Linked DNA regions of Homo sapiens. The protein of the gene in region 1 interacts with the protein of each later gene in a pairwise test. Each region holds a gene or a part of one and is shown in the gene's direction. Other genes may lie near its edges. The genes, in order: PNMA5, RAB5A and TNPO2.

Region 1 (2,944 bases):
GACAGATGTGGCCAGAGCCCTGGGATGTTGCAGCCTCCCTGCCGAGAGCCTGGATGCAGAGGTCATGCCCCAAGTTAGATCCCCACCTTTAGAGCCTCCGAAAGAAAGTATGTGGTACAGGAAACTGAAAGTGTTTTCGGGAACTGCTTCCCCTAGCCCAGGCGAAGAGACCTTTGAAGACTGGCTAGAGCAGGTCACTGAGATAATGCCCATATGGCAAGTGTCTGAGGTGGAGAAGAGGCGGCGTTTGCTGGAGAGCTTACGTGGGCCTGCTCTGTCAATCATGCGGGTGCTCCAGGCCAACAATGACTCCATAACTGTGGAGCAGTGCCTTGACGCCCTAAAGCAGATCTTTGGGGATAAAGAGGACTTTAGAGCCTCTCAGTTTAGGTTTCTGCAGACCTCTCCGAAGATTGGAGAGAAAGTCTCCACTTTCCTGCTGCGCTTAGAGCCCCTGCTGCAGAAAGCCGTGCACAAGAGCCCCTTGTCAGTGCGCAGCACAGACATGATTCGTCTGAAACATCTCTTAGCTCGGGTCGCCATGACCCCCGCCCTCAGGGGCAAGCTGGAGCTCTTGGATCAGCGAGGGTGTCCTCCCAATTTTCTGGAGTTAATGAAGCTCATTCGAGATGAAGAAGAGTGGGAGAACACTGAGGCAGTGATGAAGAATAAGGAGAAGCCATCAGGGAGAGGCCGGGGGGCCTCCGGTAGACAGGCAAGAGCAGAAGCCAGTGTCTCTGCACCTCAGGCCACCGTGCAGGCAAGGTCTTTTAGCGACAGCAGCCCCCAGACCATACAGGGAGGCTTACCCCCATTAGTGAAACGCAGGCGGCTGTTAGGCAGTGAAAGCACTAGGGGAGAAGACCATGGCCAGGCCACGTATCCCAAGGCTGAAAACCAGACTCCAGGCAGGGAGGGGCCACAGGCTGCAGGAGAGGAGTTGGGAAACGAGGCAGGGGCTGGGGCCATGAGCCATCCCAAGCCCTGGGAAACATAGGCTCAGAAGACCGAAGCACTCCTTCCCCTGGCAGGCAGCAGGGACATTTGAACAAGGGGAAGGGGCAGCTTACACTAACAGGGAACTTGACTGGGGCAGAGGGACAGGGAAGCCAGGTCGAGATCAAGCCCCCTTACTTTCCACCAGCTGGAAGGGACTTCACCAACCAAGACCAAATAGCATCTGGTTCAGTGGGGGCCGGGCCCATAGCCCCTAACAGGTACAGGAGACACAAGCGGGGAACCACTACACTTAGCACATGGGGTGCCTGGGCTTCAGATGGGGACCCCAGCGAAGCAGGGGCTGAAGAAGGTGTGGCTGGGGGCTCTGGCCTGGTCCTCTGGACACCCCCAAATATCTACCCTGTGGACTTTGAGCTGAGCATGCCCACTGGCACCCAGGCCACGTGGGACCTGGAGGAGCCTGCCTGGGGCCTGCCTCTGCCAGAAGGAGCCAGGGCTGCTGAGGAAGAGCTGTGGGGCAGAAGTGAAGCCCCGCAGGGGAGGCCACAGGGTCCAGCCTGTCTTTAGGATCATCTACACTGCATGAGGGGAGCCCCAGGAAGGCAGCATTCATAAGCCCCTGCACCAGTGAGGAAGAGAAAGAGGAGGAGAATTAAGAAGAGGATGATCGGGAGGAGGAAGAGGAGAATAAGGAGGAGCAGGAGGAAGAGGGGGAGGAGAAGGAGGAAGAGGGGGAGGAGGAAGAGGGGAAGGAGGAGGAAGAAGTGTAAGAAGAGAAGAGAGGATGTGTTGGGGGTGGGTAGTTGTTTTTGGTTTGCGTCATCATCAGGCCCGGGCTCTGCTCACTGCTGTTCCGTGTCAAGAACTCCACCTCTGCTTTGCCGGTGTAGATCTCGGCCAGTGGCTGCTTGTTCTCTTGGGGATGTGTGTGTTTTTATCTGAGCAGCTCCTTTCCAGAGTACCCCAGCGCAGTTCCAGGAGACGGTGGGAAGGAGGCATGGCAGACGCTCACCTTGTGACTGTGACCTCGACTGCAGGAGGACCAACCAGACACGGGAAGGAGCAGGGCTGCCTGAGGCTCCCCAGGAAGCTTTGTGCTTTGGCGTTCCACCCCTGCTGTTACTCGTGACTCAGTTTCCTCAACTTGGTGGGGTGTTCCCTGCTATGTTTTCCAGCATCCTGTGACTGTCCTGTGCAGTCTATAGGGCAGGGCCCTGCCCCAGCGGGTGGGCTCAGGAGGGGGTTCCCTGAAGCGAGTACACATTGCCAGAGCCCACCATCCTGGCAAGAGGTGGATCCTGGGGCCCTATGGAAGGAGGGATGTGGTGGGGGGGGCCACACTGAGGGAGGGGCCGGGGACTTGTGACCTGTAGTGGCTGTTTGCAGTTTCTCTCTGTGTTAGATTCCCTTTTCTTCAGCAGTTTCAGTTCATGTTTCTCTTCAGTAAATTTTGTTCAGTGTTCCAGTGGTGTCTTGCCTCTGCTGTGTGAAACTGGGGTGGGAGGTGGTCTGCTGGGGATGGGGCCACAGTGGCCAGGCTGACATCGAGGTGTGTGTGGGGCAGGGTCTATGAGGGCCTGTGGGGTGCCTTGGGCTGCATGGAGCCTGGCAACAGGATGCTGGTGGTCATGAGCAGTGACTGGCTGGGTACCAAAGGCACTCCAGGTGTCCTCAGGAATAAGTGACTTGGACATTGAAGGCTGGGCAAGGGGCAGCAGGTGGGTCCCAGGCCCCTGATCCCTGGCAGCACTGTAGGGGTGTGGCTCAAGGCTTCCGGAAGGGTCAGAGAGGCCACGTGTGCAACCAAGGCCAGCAACCGAGGTCAGAGAAGAGCCCCAGGAGGGCCTGGACAGGCAGTCAGAGGCCCTGTGAAGAGCTGTGTGCAGGACTCGGGGTGGGGTAGGGGCTGGTGTGTGCCCATCCTCCCAGATCAGCCCGCAGGTGGCCAGCCTTGGCCTAGCCACTGAGGGATGTTTGGGGACAG
Region 2 (3,751 bases), on another chromosome or scaffold:
AAACCCTTTCTCCAAAAAAATTTTTTTAAAAATGGCATGTATATTGTTCGTCTAAAGACTACAAAAAAGTTACAATTATTGTAAGTAAATAAGTCAGTAATAATCACCACATGGAGAACAACTGTTAGCATTTCTGTGTATGGTGTGCTTGAGCAGATGAGGAAACAGTTTTAAGTCTGCCGTTAGGCACACAAACCTGGGAGACTGAAAATATTTGTTGTCCAAAATTACCATTAATTAAATGAAAAATGCATCGTTTAACAGAAAACTTCAAATAATACTAAATTTTAGGATCTGTTCTAAAAGTTTCCCATTTATTAATAACATAATTTTTCTCAAAACAATGTTAATCCAAGTAGCCTGGCTACAGAACTTGAACTCGAGTCATCTCTCAGGTTGCCTGGGTTTGAAACTCGGCTCTGTCACTTCTGTGACAATAACTGTGTGACCTCAATTAAGCTTCTTAACATCTCTGTGCTTGTTTCCTCATTTATAAGGATTGTAATAATATCTCATTTTATAGGATTGTTGAGAAGTTAAGTACTTAAAGCACTGCCTGGCACAAACTTGAAGCTTTGAGGTTAGCCTTTAAAAAAAAAAGTAATTTTGGACTCACATCCTATACCTTTGAATTTCCTTTAAAAGATAGTGACATAATCTAAAGGGCATTGAAGGTCTAGTAGAGTTTAAGATAATCATGCTATAGGCAATATTTAAAGTGATTAATAGTAAATTTGCTTTACTGATTTGTATATTTAATTCATAATTGTTTCTTTACAGGTTTCTTTACCTCCAGAAAGAAGAATATTGGCCCCTTGAATTCTGGAAGTTCATTGAAGAGTCTGAAATTAGGGACTTATTTCAAATTTGGACATGGCTAGTCGAGGCGCAACAAGACCCAACGGGCCAAATACGGGAAATAAAATATGCCAGTTCAAACTAGTACTTCTGGGAGAGTCCGCTGTTGGCAAATCAAGCCTAGTGCTTCGTTTTGTGAAAGGCCAATTTCATGAATTTCAAGAGAGTACCATTGGGGGTGAGATTTTCTTTTTTCCCTGCTTCATTTAATCGAATCATACATTGACAGAAAATATTTTGATGTTCCAATTGTGTGATTATGAATAGCTAAATAAGTCATAGAGTGAAGAAAAGAGCTGTTCAGCTTACCTTAGCTTTAAAACTTGCCTTTATCTTTGTTAAAATGATGTGTTTTTATATTTGATTGTTTGGTTAATCCCTTGTGGTTATATTGTAGCTAAAATACAGATAAAAAACATGAGTAGAATCAGTGTCTCAAGTAATAACATTTGACCTGATACCTATTTCTAGCTAACAACTAGAAGCTTCTTCAAATTAATACAGTACATGTTTGTGCTCAATTATATTGGTTTAAAATGAATAGTAAAAAAGGTAACCTTAAATTCTGATCTATATAACTGAAGTATTTGCAAATAATTATACTTACTTGTAAAATTAAATGTAATTAAATACTGCTAGATGTACTTTTTTTTGGTATTTAAGAGATGGGATCTTGCTGTCGCCTAGGCTGGAGTGCAGTGTCCGGATCATAGCTCACTGCAGACTGCAGCCTGAAACTCTAGGCTCAAATGATCTTCTTGCCTTAGCCTCCCACCAAGTAGTTGGACCTAAGGGTGCATGCCACCATGCCAGGCAAGTTTTTTTTTTTTTTTTTTAAGAGTCAGAGTCTCGCTGTGTTTCCAGGTTGGTCTTGAACTCCTGGCCTCAAGTGAGCCTCCAGCCTCAACCTCCCAGGTAGCTGTGATTACAGGTGCTCCCTGCTGAGATGCATATGTAAGAATGCTCCTAAGCTGAGGGAAGAGAAAAAGTGATTAATGGAAAGGGACATAACAGGAAAATGGAACCTGAAGAAAAAGATGAAAGAAGAAGGGAAAGAGTAGGCACTGACAAGGGTGGTTATGGTGGGACAGAGATGAGGGGAAGGTAAGATGCAGGGTGAAAAGGAGACAACAAACAGTACAGTATTGTCAAGAGAGGACGTGAAATGGGAAAATTGAATTTTAGCTGGACATGGTGGTGCATTCCTGTAGTCCCAGGTATTTGGAGGCTGAGGCAGGATTATTTTAGCTTGGGAGTTCAAGTCTAGCCTGGGCAACATAATGAGAACCCATCTCTTAAAAAAAATTGACTTTAATCAAAGAAACCTATAATTATATAGCAGTGGGACAAGATAGCCTCTTTTGGGCCTCTGTTTCATCTGTGAAATGATGCTTTTCAATTAGATGATGTGTGGCAAGAGCCACACGGTTTGAGATTCACAATATTTTGCAAGTGATATATAATTAAGCAATGCTGTTTTCTAAGGTATTCATGTATATATTTTAACCCCATCCTGTAAAATTAAAGTCAAACTTTGGAAATAAGACAGGTAGATACCAACTGGCATGTGGCAACTTCTTGGAATCTGTCTTTCAGAAGCAAAACTTTATACTGTGCATTTAGTGAATGCTCTTCTGCAAATATACTTGAGAATGTTATTCATAATCTTAGACCCATTCTAGTAAGATAAGTTACAGAAGTCTACTACCTCCTGGCCTTTGTATATCTTGTTAAAATGTTATATTAGAATGTTTTATGTTTTTTCTAATGGCTGAGCATCAGAAAGCATCATGGAGCTTTTATTTTGAGTCAGAAGTCTTGGCATTTTAAAAAATGTTAATACACAATATATTAGACATCTTTGTGATTTTTTTTTTCCCTGAAAGTACATCCACGTGTGATTTTGTTGTTGTTGTTGTTATTGTTAATACATTATATCCAGTTTAATAATGAAATACTACTTCTCAAGAAGGCTTTGCTTCCTCCAGAAGTGATTTGGTCAAAGCTAACTGTCCCATCTAGTAGGAAAAGTTTAAAGACTGCTAGATCATGTCCACCCACTTATTTCACTGTTAATGGAAGCATTTCCCAAAGTATATGTGCATTCTGGGTTAAATAACCTGGGCCACGTAGGTTTGGGACTTACTATATGCTACTCTTCTCCTCTCTCTTTATTATTTTATTAAAACAATAAAAACTCTGAAGTACTGTAGTATAGGACTTAATTCCTGGGGAGCTTTGCAAGAGCTTAAGATTAGAATTTTTATCTTGTTTTGGATAATGCACTTCTAAGTTTATTTTTTCCTAATGATAGCTCAAGAAGGATGTTTAAAAGAAAAATGTAACCCCATATCCTGTGTATCATAAATATATCTCTGATATGTGTGTATCTCTATATAATCTCCATGTAACACCAGTTAGATTGTCTAGATTTCATTAATGAATTTTTCATAAAGATTTTCATTTCTATGTGTAGAGCTTCCTGTTTAAAAACAAAAAGGAATTTGCATCCAAATTTCTGTTAATCCTTTTTTTTTTTTTTTTTGGAGACAAGGTCTCTGTCGCCCAGGCTGGAGTGCAGTGGTGTAGCCCTGGCTCACTGCAACCTCCGCTTCCCAGGATCAAGCAATTCTCATGCCTCAGCCCCCCAAGTAGCTGGGACTACAGGCGCAAGCCACCACTCCTGGCCAATTTTTGTATTTTTAGTAGAGATGGGGTTTCACCATGTCGGTCGGGTTGGTCTTGAACTCCTGGCCTCAAGTGATCTGCCTACCTCGGGCTCTCCAAGTGCTGGGATTACAGGCATGAGCCACTGCCCCTGGCCCAACTTTCTGTTAATCTTTATTGGATACTTTTTCACTGTGCTGACCCCATGTGAATACTATTCAGGAGG
Region 3 (3,751 bases), on another chromosome or scaffold:
GAAATGAGTCTGGGCCAGTGATTTAAACTCTAAGCCTCAGTTTCCCTATATGTTGTGTGCGGCTGACTCTTCTCTCCATACGGTGGGTGTGGCTGGGCCCAATCAAACTGCCCCCTCTTGGTTCCCTTTCCTTGTAGGCTGCATGCAGGGCATGGTGCCCTACCTGCCTGAGCTGATCCCGCACCTGATCCAGTGCCTGTCGGATAAGAAGGCCTTGGTCCGCTCCATCGCCTGCTGGACGCTGAGCCGCTATGCCCACTGGGTGGTCAGCCAGCCACCCGACATGCACCTCAAGCCCCTGATGACAGAGCTGCTCAAACGCATCCTGGATGGCAACAAGAGGGTACAGGAGGCGGCCTGCAGGTGACCCTGGACCCCTGATCCCACAGCCCCCACTCTCCCCCGGCCACCCTCTGGGAAGTGATGACACCTGTGACTGTTGATGTGGAACTGATTTATCGCGTATTCGTACTGGCTGATCCTGAGTTGCCCTCCCCAACTGCCCATGGCCCAGTGTCACCTGCCATGGTCCACTGAGCCCCCGCTTCATCCTCCCTCCCACCAGTGCTTTTGCCACCCTGGAGGAAGAGGCCTGCACGGAGCTGGTGCCCTACCTCAGCTACATCCTGGACACCCTTGTCTTTGCCTTTGGGAAATACCAGCACAAGAACCTGCTCATCCTCTATGACGCCATTGGCACCCTGGCCGACTCTGTAGGCCACCACCTCAACCAGCCGGTGAGACCCCAGAGCGGCTCCCGCCTCCCGATCCCCGTGCCCCTGGGCATCCAGTGACCTGGTGGCAACCCCGTGTTGCACGCCAGGGACGTGGCCGTGACCTCGACAGGCAGACAGACAGACCCGGCCCCGCCCTCGCCCTGCTCCCAGTCTAGTGGGGGAGAAAGACAGTTATGAGACAGCGTGGTAAGTGCTGTGCTTCGGGAACCAGGAGGTGGTAACCCAGGCTCCCGGGGGGTGGGGTGGGGCGGGCGGTGCTTGGACAGGTGAGAAGAATGAAGGCCTCGAGGTCTGGCCAGATGGCAGGCCTTTCAGGGTCCCATGAGCCACGGTGAGGCGCTCAGGCCTCATCACTCGGGCAACAGGTACCTGAGTCACAGTCTGCCACCCCGACCCAGGGAGCGCCCATTTCGTGCTCCCTCTCCAGGAATACATCCAGAAGCTGATGCCCCCACTGATCCAGAAGTGGAATGAGCTCAAGGACGAAGACAAGGACCTCTTCCCCCTGCTGGAGGTGAGTGGGCTCCTGCCCCTCACCCGAAACCCATCCTGCCCACCCTGCCTGAGTTCTCCCCACCTGCCTTCCTCCCTGCCAGTGTCTGTCATCGGTGGCCACCGCCCTGCAGAGTGGCTTCCTGCCTTACTGTGAGCCCGTCTACCAGCGCTGTGTCACCCTGGTGCAGAAGACACTGGCTCAGGCCATGGTGAGCAACCCTAGGCCCGTCACCTGTGCTTCTGCATTGGCCTGCCTCGGGCCTGCTCCACTTACCCGTGCCCCTGTCGGCATCTGTGTCTAGATGTACACCCAGCACCCTGAGCAGTATGAGGCTCCCGACAAGGACTTCATGATCGTAGCACTGGATCTGCTCAGCGGCCTGGCCGAGGGCCTGGGTGGTCACGTGGAGCAGCTGGTGGCCCGCAGCAACATCATGACATTGCTGTTCCAGTGCATGCAGGTGGGTGGGGACCCTGGACAGTGATGACACCCAGCAGCCTGCGTGGGCTGCCCCTGGTGGGGAGTCAGGGCCTGGTTGTGCCCAAAGGAAATCAGGGAAAAGGTGCTGTTCTAATTATTTTAAAGAGTAATCCTGGAGGCCGAGGCAGGATTGCTTGAGCCCAGGAGTTTGAGACCAGCCTGGGCAACATAGTGAAACCCCAGTTCTAAAATTAAAAAAAAAAATTTTTTTTAAAGCAAACAGTATTGAAAATAGAAAATGTGAGGCCAGGTGCTCACGCCTATAATCCAGCACTTTGGGAGGCTGTGGCAGGTGAATCACTTGAGGTCAGGAGTTTGAGAGCAGCTTGGCCAACACGGTGAAATCCTGTCTCTACGAAAAATACAAAAATTAGCCAGGCATGGTGGTAGGCGCCTGTAATCCCAGCTACTTGGAAGGCTGAGGCAGGAGAATTGCTTGAACCCAGGAGGCAGAGGTTGCAGTGAGCTGAGATCATGCCACTGCACTCCAGCCTGGGCAATAAACTGAGACTCTGTCTTCAAAAAAAAAGAAAGAAAAGAAAATAGAAAATGTGAAAGCCCAAGTCCCTGCCCCAGCACAGTTGGCTCTCTGTATCTGTGGGTTCTACATCCCAAGATTCAAGTAACCTCAGATTGAAAATACTCAGAGGAAAAATTACATCTGTACTGAACGCATACAGAAGTTTGTTCTTGTTATTATTCCCTAAACAATACAGTATAACAACTATTCCCATACTGTTGACATTGTATTAGATATAAGTGATTTAGAGATGATGCTAAGTGTACAGGAGAATGTGCATAGGTGCATATGCAAACACTATGCCCCCCCCACCGCCCCCCACCTGTTTTTTGAGACAGAGTCTCACTCTGTCACCCAGGCTGGAGTGCAATGGTGTGATCTCGGCTCACTGCAACCTTCACCTCCAGGGTTCAAGCAGTTCTCCTGCCTTAGCCTCTCAAGAAGCTGGGACTACAGGCGTGTCCCACTATGCCTGGCTAATTTTATTGTATTTTTAGTAAAGACAGGGTTTTGCCATGTTGGCCAGGCTGGTCTCAAACTCCTGACCTCAAGTGATCTGCCTGCCTCGGCCTGCCAAAGTGCTGGAGATTACAGGCATGAACCACTGCGCCTGGCCCTAACACTGTGCCACTTTATATCAAGGACTTGCACATCCGTGGATTTTTATATCTGCAGGGACCTGGAAAGAATCCCCCACGGACACTGAGGGATGACCGTTGGGGCACTGCCATCTCCCATTTGCAGATGTGGGCTGGAGGCTAGGGAGGTTAAGGAACAGCTAGGAGCTCTAGAACTGGAAAGTGGCAGAGGCTGGACATGCACCAGGGACTGTGCCCCCTGAGCTGTCCTGGTTAGAAGGAGGGGAGCCTAGCCACACTGATCTTACTTGAATCCCCAGGACTCGATGCCTGAGGTCCGGCAGAGCTCCTTTGCCCTCCTGGGAGACCTCACCAAAGCCTGCTTCATCCATGTCAAGCCCTGTATCGGTACGACACTCGCCTTGTCCCTAACCCATGACCCCAGCCCCGGCCTCAAGTGATGGAGAGCAATACCCGGGGATGACTGTGACCACATTGGGATGTATTCGTACTGTCTGATGGGGCCTGCTGGACTAGGTCCTGCAGCTTACCCTGGCTGGCCCTCCTTCTCAGCACCCCTGTTTCTCCCCACCAGCCGAGTTCATGCCCATTCTGGGCACCAACCTGAACCCAGAGTTCATCTCCGTCTGCAACAACGCCACCTGGGCCATTGGTGAAATCTGCATGCAGATGGGTGAGTGCCCTGCAAGTGGCAACACGCGCCCCCCATTAGCCTGTTCTCAACCTGGGGGCGGGAGCCTAGCTCTGACTGACAGCTTCCTTCAAGGCAAGTCTCTTGGGGGTCGTCAGGGGTGGAGCCAAGCAGAAAGGTCATTTGTGATTGGCTTCTCTAAAGAGGAGGGATAGGAGGGCTGTTCTGATTGGACCGTTTTGTGTAGTTGGCTAAAAGACTCATTCGGATTGGTTGGGTGACTTTGGC

Evidence for each region.
Region 2: the proteins of PNMA5 (region 1) and RAB5A interact in binary tests that used the Homo sapiens proteins (3 or more experiments, as listed by UniProt).
Region 3: the proteins of PNMA5 (region 1) and TNPO2 interact in binary tests that used the Homo sapiens proteins (3 or more experiments, as listed by UniProt).

The regions. Positions count from the first base shown.
Region 1 is NC_000023.11:152,988,305-152,991,248, reverse strand, and holds the end of PNMA5 (paraneoplastic antigen-like protein 5), read left to right. Parts: coding exon 1-997; 3' UTR 998-2,425; downstream 2,426-2,944.
Region 2 is NC_000003.12:19,950,026-19,953,776, forward strand, and holds part of RAB5A (ras-related protein Rab-5A), read left to right. Parts: intron 1-780; 5' UTR 781-873; coding exon 874-1,036; intron 1,037-3,751. UniProt on the Homo sapiens protein: The small GTPases Rab are key regulators of intracellular membrane trafficking, from the formation of transport vesicles to their fusion with membranes.
Region 3 is NC_000019.10:12,703,182-12,706,932, reverse strand, and holds part of TNPO2 (transportin-2), read left to right. Parts: intron 1-137; coding exon 138-363; intron 364-414; exon of another isoform or gene 415-484; intron 485-565; coding exon 566-737; intron 738-1,164; coding exon 1,165-1,251; intron 1,252-1,333; coding exon 1,334-1,441; intron 1,442-1,534; coding exon 1,535-1,693; intron 1,694-3,131; coding exon 3,132-3,219; intron 3,220-3,261; exon of another isoform or gene 3,262-3,336; intron 3,337-3,406; coding exon 3,407-3,505; intron 3,506-3,751. UniProt on the Homo sapiens protein: Probably functions in nuclear protein import as nuclear transport receptor. Serves as receptor for nuclear localization signals (NLS) in cargo substrates.